2 linked regions of the Homo sapiens genome follow. The protein of the gene in region 1 interacts with the protein of each later gene in a biochemical or structural test. Each region holds a gene or a part of one and is shown on either strand. Other genes may lie near its edges.

Region 1 (3,500 bases):
CTCACTGTACATTTCATGAAATCTCTTTCCTCAACAGCATCCCCATTCAGATGTCACATCCATTCCGATAATATATCAGGGAGAGATGATAACAATTATGCAATTATATTGCATAATTGAATTATATTGAAATATAATCCATCGGGAGCAGTGGCTCATGCCTGTAATCTCAGCACTTTAGGAGGCCGAGGTGGGTGGATCACCTGAGGTCAGGAGTTTGAGACCAGCCTGGCCAACATGGCAAAACCCCATCTCTACTAAAAATACAAAAAAAAAAAAAAAAAGAAATTAGTCAGGTGTGGTGGCACGTGCTTGTAGTCCCAGCTAGTTGGGGCTGGCTGTGGTGGCTTACACCTATAATCCCAGCACTTTGGGGGGCTGAGGCCAGGAGTTCAAGACTAGCCTTGCCAACATGGTGAAACCCCATCTCTACTAATAATACAAAAAAAATAGCTGGGCATGGTGGCGCATGCCTATAATCTCAGCTACTCGGGAGGCTGAGGCAGGAGAATTGCTTGAACCCACGAGGCAGAGGTTGCAGTGAGCCGAGATCGCACCACTGCACTCCAGCCTAGGCGACAAGAGTGAAACTCCATCTCAAAAAAAGAGAAAGAAATATAATTCACACATCATAAAATTCACCCATTTAAAATGAACAACTGAGGGTGCGGTGACTCATACCTATAACCCCAATGCTCTTGAGGCCAAGGCGGGAGGATTGCTTGAGACCAGGAGTTGAGATCAGCCTGGGCAACATAGCTAGACCCTGTCTCTAAAAAAACTTTTTTTTTAAGAAAACGAAAACTTAGCGGGGCATGGTGGCATGTGCCTGTAGTCCTAACTACGTGGGAGGCTGAGGTGGAAGGATCTCTTGAGCCCAGGAATATGAAGCTGCGGGGAGCTATGATTGCAGTACTATACTCCAGCCTGGACAACAGAGTGAGGCTCTGTCTCTAAAAAAAGTAAATAAAATGTACAGTTCAATAAATATCAGCATATTCATAAACATGCACAACCACCACCACAATCAATTTTAGAACATTTTCATCCCCCCAGAAAGAAACGCTGTGCCCATTAGCAGTTGCTTTCCATGTCCCCCATTACCCTCCTAGCCCTAGGCAACTACTATGTTACTTTCTGTCTCTATAGATTTGCCTACTGGGGACATTTCATTTAAATTGAATCATACAGTACGTGGTCCTTTGTGTCTGGTTGCTTTCACTTTGCAAAATGTTCATGTTGGTAGAGGTGCTTAAAAAATAAAATAAAAAGAACAACAAAAAAAGGAAGCGAAATTCATCCATGTTGTATTGTTTTAGTACTTCATATTCCTTTTCATTGTCAAATAATATTTCATTATGTGGATATACCACACTTTATTATCACATATACCATATTTTATTCCTCAACCCAGTTGATGGATGTGTGGATTGTTTACGCTTTTTGGCTATTATAAATAATACCGCTGTGCACATTAGTGTGCAAGTTTTTATATGGACATTTTTCACTTTTTTTTTTTCTTGAGACAGGGTCTTGCTCTGTCACCTAGGCTGGAGTGCAGTGGCTTGATCACCATCCATTGCAGCCTCAACCTCAAGGGCTGAAGCGATCCTCCCACCTCAGCTTCCCAAGCAGCTCGTACGACAGGAGCACACCACCATTTTTTATAGAGACAAGCGTGTTGGGGGTGTTGGTGGGGGGGGTCTCACTATGTTGCCAAGTTGGTCTCAAACCCCTGGGCTCAAGTGATCCTCCCACCTCAGCCTCCTAAAGTGCTGGGATTACAGGCCTGAGCCACCACACCTGGCCCATTTTTCACTCTTAAACTTACAGTTGTATTGTCATACTAAACTAAGTTAATTGCTGTTTAATTTTTTATTAGCAGGTATAACAATACATTATGCACCATGGTCCAACAATGACAATAAAGTTTTTCACCACTCCGGGCATTTTATCCACACCAATGTAAATGTCCTTGGGTCCCATAGCACCAAGAGACTCTGCCACCCTTTTCTTTACATCACACTGCTTTAAAGTGACTGTAGATTCTGCTTTTGCATCATCCTAAAGGTTTATTTGTTTAATTCATCAAGACTAGGATACATTAGAAATCTTGACTGGGCACAGTGGCTCACACCTGTAATCCCAGCACTTTGGGAGGCTAAGGTGGGAGGATTGCTTGAGCCCAGGAATTTGAAACCAGCCTGGGCAACAAAGTGAGATGGAGTCTTGCTCTGTTCACCCAGGCTGGAGTGCAGTGGCAAAATTTTGACTCACCGCAACCTCTGCTTCCCAGGTTCAAGCAATTCTCCTGCCTCAGCCTCCTGAGTAGCTGGGATTACAGGCATGTGCCACCATGCCCGGCTAATTTTTTTATTTTTAGTAGAGACAGGGTTTCACCATGTTGGCCAGGCTGGTTTCGAACTCCTGACCTCAGGTGATCCACCCGCCTCGGCCTCCCAATGTGCTAGGATTACAGGTGTGAGCCACCATGCCCAGCCCTTTCCTTTTTTTTTTTTTTTTTTTTATAGGAGACAAGGGCTCACTCTGTTGCCAAGGCTGTAGTACAAGTGCAGTGGCATGATTCTAGCTCACTGCAGCCTCAGATTCCTGGGCTTAAGCAATCCTCTTGCCTCAGCCTCTCAAAGTGCTGGGATTACAGGTGTAAGCCAGGACACCCGGCCTCCTTTCTTTTGAATGATATTAATCTGTTCATCATTCAGCACAATTTGGAGCAAAGGAACTAGTAAGTCTTCAACAGGCTTTCACTTCATCCTGCTCCCCCAGTAGTAGGGTCATACAAAAAGTCTACGAAGGTAGAGGCCCTCTTATCACAGCAACAATCATCACTTAAGTCAAAGACATAAAATTAAGGGATACCTTAGTTTCATCACAGAACCAGTCCAAATGTGTTTGTTTGCATTCTCAACATTTCAGTAACCTCTAGGGAGTATTTCTTCTAACAATTATGGGTGGAATTGGGCAGTTCCCCTTTACAAGATATGTTTTATGTACTGCCACCTTTGTGCAGCTCAACCGATTTGGAATTTGCCCAGCTAAACACATTCCGGCAAAAGCTGCAGCTAATTGAAGATCTTCAACGAATTCAGCTAATTAAGACCAAACACACCCTTTCATTTGAAGGTACATTTGACAGTACCTAATACAAGGAAAAGAGCTCCTTTGTCATTCATGTATATCCAACCCAGCAGTGGTTCTGCAGGAAGCTCTGTCAGTCCACAGGCAACTTCACTCTTGTGTAGTTCCCTGTTTCAGTTGTCTCTTGATGCCCTCCCACTGTAGTTTCGTTGGTGATTATCTACCCGATGAGGGTCACATTCCCATCAGAAGAAATATCTGCCCAACTCCTCTTTGGCATCATGTTCCTTCCCTTTACAGAAGGAAATTGGTGGACTTGGCAACACAGGCTCTTTTTTAGTTACTTTCATTTTTGCCAAAGCAGCCTAACCAGCCAGGGAACTGTATTCTTGGCTGACTTC
Region 2 (2,828 bases), on another chromosome or scaffold:
CCATATCCCCAGAACCTGGGACCAGGCAGGGACTTCCCTATTTAAAAGCCATTGGCACTTCCCACTGCCCTCTGTACCAAGTTCAAACCATTCAGCCCTTGGGATTTAAGACGCTTTACAATCTGTCCACTGCTGACCCTCCTCCATCAGGTCTCCCCTGGCTGGGTGATTCTGCCAACAGCCAAACACCCCTGGCCCTTCAGATTCTCCAGCATTTACAGTCTTTGCCTGGAATAACGATACTAAGTACCACTTATCAGGGGCCCGCTCTGTGCCAAGTACTTCACATGCACTATTTCTAAACCTCACGCAAGCCCTGAAAAACAGGTATCATGATCCCCATTTTCCAGATAAGAAACTGAGGCTCAGAAGGAAATTGATGGCAGAGACTCGATTTGTACCTGTTCCCTCTTAGCTGCTGGAGGGATGCTTGGGCAGTGTGGGGTGGTGATAATCAGCAGGGCCTTTAGCATTAGACCCGGTCTGTAGTAACTGCTCAATGAATGGTAGCCACAGTTGTGACTGGATATCACTACCTGTCTGACCAGCACATGAATAGAGGGGTCTGGTAGTCTCAAGTTTCTAAAGTTAGATGGACCTGGAGTGGTGTCCTGGTTGAACTACTCACTAACTGTGTAGCCTTGGACATATATGTATCTGTGAGCCTCAGTTTCCTCAGATTAAATGAGATTATGTGTGAGGAACCGTGGCTGGCTAGAGTGGGTGGTCAGTAAACAGCAGCTCATATTATAGTCATTATTCATCCTCCACATCCTCAAGTCTTCCCTGCCACTCAGTAGTCCCCTGGTTCCCAGATGACACCTTTACACCCCTGTCACTGAGCTTGTCAGTGTGACCTACACATCTGTCTCCCCCACCAGAGTGGGAGCCCCAAGAGGCGCAGTCTCTTCCTCTCCAGTGTGTCCATTACCTGGCAGAGGGCTGGGTCTTGAGAAGAACTGGGCCAGTGACCAGTAACCCTGTGATAGCCTTCTCCTGGGCCTCCTAACTAATTGTCTGGAATTGCTGCTTACTCATGGTTTCATGGGAGCCAACTTGTCATTAATCAGGCACTGGGGCTTGCAGAGCTCTGTGTGCACCAGCTGTCTGGGGCCCCCGGGCCGCCCTAAAAGAAGCCAGGGTCTGGATAGCAGAGGCCACCAGAAAGGGGTCCTGAGGATGCCCAGGGAATGGGTCTAGCTTGACTGACACCCGGGCGTGGTGGCTCCAGCAGGACTGGGGTTTACCAGTACACACCAGTGCAACACACTAAGTGGTAAAATGCCAACATTCCTTCAGATAGTCAGTACCCAGCTGCTGTCCATGTCCGGGTGATCCTCCACCATTCTGGCCACCTGGCCCTACCATCAGGACCCCCAGATCCCCCTACCATCAAGCAACTAAAGAGTCAAATGCCTGGCTCACAGGAGTCCATGGCAAACATTAGGGCTTTCCCCTCTCTAGCCATAGGTATGGGGAGGGCATCACATCTCCACCTGGAGAGAAGACCCAGACCTTAGCAAGAGGAGAAGCCAAAGTCAAGAGTCCAGCAGTGGCTGGGGCAGCAGTCTGTGGAGCTGAGGGACCAGAAGGGAAAGGATTCAGAGATGCAGAAGGAAAGGGGGCAAGAGCTTGTGCAAAGCTGCGTGACAGGATTAGTCAGGGCACATTTCAAAGATGCTGAAAAGGCCCTTCTGGCTAGAGCAGAGGATGTGCAGAGGAGAAAATAATAACAGACAATTGCTAATGTCTACCAAGTACCAATTATATGCCAAGCCTTCCGCTCAAGTCCTTATCTCACTCTATCCCTGCAATAGCCTTGTGAGGCAGGGGATTAACACCCCCACTTTACAGGTGAAAAAATGTGTAAAGCCTTAGGAAAAAGGCAGATAAAATAGAGCCAGAGCCCTGGCCATCTTCAAGGCTGGGCTGAGGGGATGGGTGGTTTCTGAAATAAAGCTAACATGCAGCACACTTAAACTTGTACTAACAAAAGGCATTTATATCCGGTCCTTAAATCTCCTTGTGAAGTCAGTATGAGCGTACAGATGAGCAACCTAAGATTGAAGGCCACTTCCAGAACTGGAAGCCAGACCTCCTGGCTATGAGTCCAGAGCCCTCTCAGTAGACAGCTCTAAGTAGTGGCCAGCCAGAGCTTTTCTCCACTTATGTGCTGTGTGATTTTGGGCACATCACCTCACCTCTCTGAGCCTCATGGGGTTGTTGTAAGCACGCACTGAGCTCATGAGCACCTCACTCAATGCTAGGCTCATAGTGGGCCCTCAATCAATTAGTTAGAAGATGGCTGGGTATCCAGATGGAATGTAGACAGTGGTGCCAGATGGCCCACTCACACAGGCTGTGTGGCCTCAAGCAAGTGCCTTTATCTCTCTGAGCATCCGTTTCCTCTGGTGTAAATGAGGATCAACTAGACATAGCTGGACTGTGCTCTGCAGAAATGTCAATTCATAAAAGATAAAGAAAGGATGAGGAGCTATTCCAGATTAAAGGGGGCTAAAGAGACATGAGAACTAGATGCAATGCATGACCCCAGGTCAGGGCCAAAAATGCTATAAAGAACATTATGGAGACAGTTGGCAAAATTGGAATATGGTTGGTAGATTAGATAATAGCATTGTTTCTATGTTAAATATCCTGGCTTTGGTAATCATATTATGGGTTATGTAAGAGAATGTGCTTATTTTTAGGAAATATATCCTAATGTATCCAGGGGTAAAGGGCCAATGTTCAGAACAGCAAGAAAATGTTACACACTAGTGTGCACACACGCACACACACACTGATAATGATGAAGCAACTGTGGGAAA

The links. The genes of interacting proteins can lie anywhere in the genome.
Region 2: the proteins of NAIP (region 1) and HPCA form a complex in vitro, tested with the Homo sapiens proteins (one study listed by BioGRID).

Annotation. Positions count from the first base shown.
Region 1 is NC_000005.10:71,015,340-71,018,839, forward strand, and holds part of NAIP (baculoviral IAP repeat-containing protein 1), read right to left. Parts: intron 1-3,500. UniProt on the Homo sapiens protein: Anti-apoptotic protein which acts by inhibiting the activities of CASP3, CASP7 and CASP9. Can inhibit the autocleavage of pro-CASP9 and cleavage of pro-CASP3 by CASP9.
Region 2 is NC_000001.11:32,889,491-32,892,318, reverse strand, and holds part of HPCA (neuron-specific calcium-binding protein hippocalcin), read right to left. Parts: intron 1-2,828. UniProt on the Homo sapiens protein: Calcium-binding protein that may play a role in the regulation of voltage-dependent calcium channels. May also play a role in cyclic-nucleotide-mediated signaling through the regulation of adenylate and guanylate cyclases.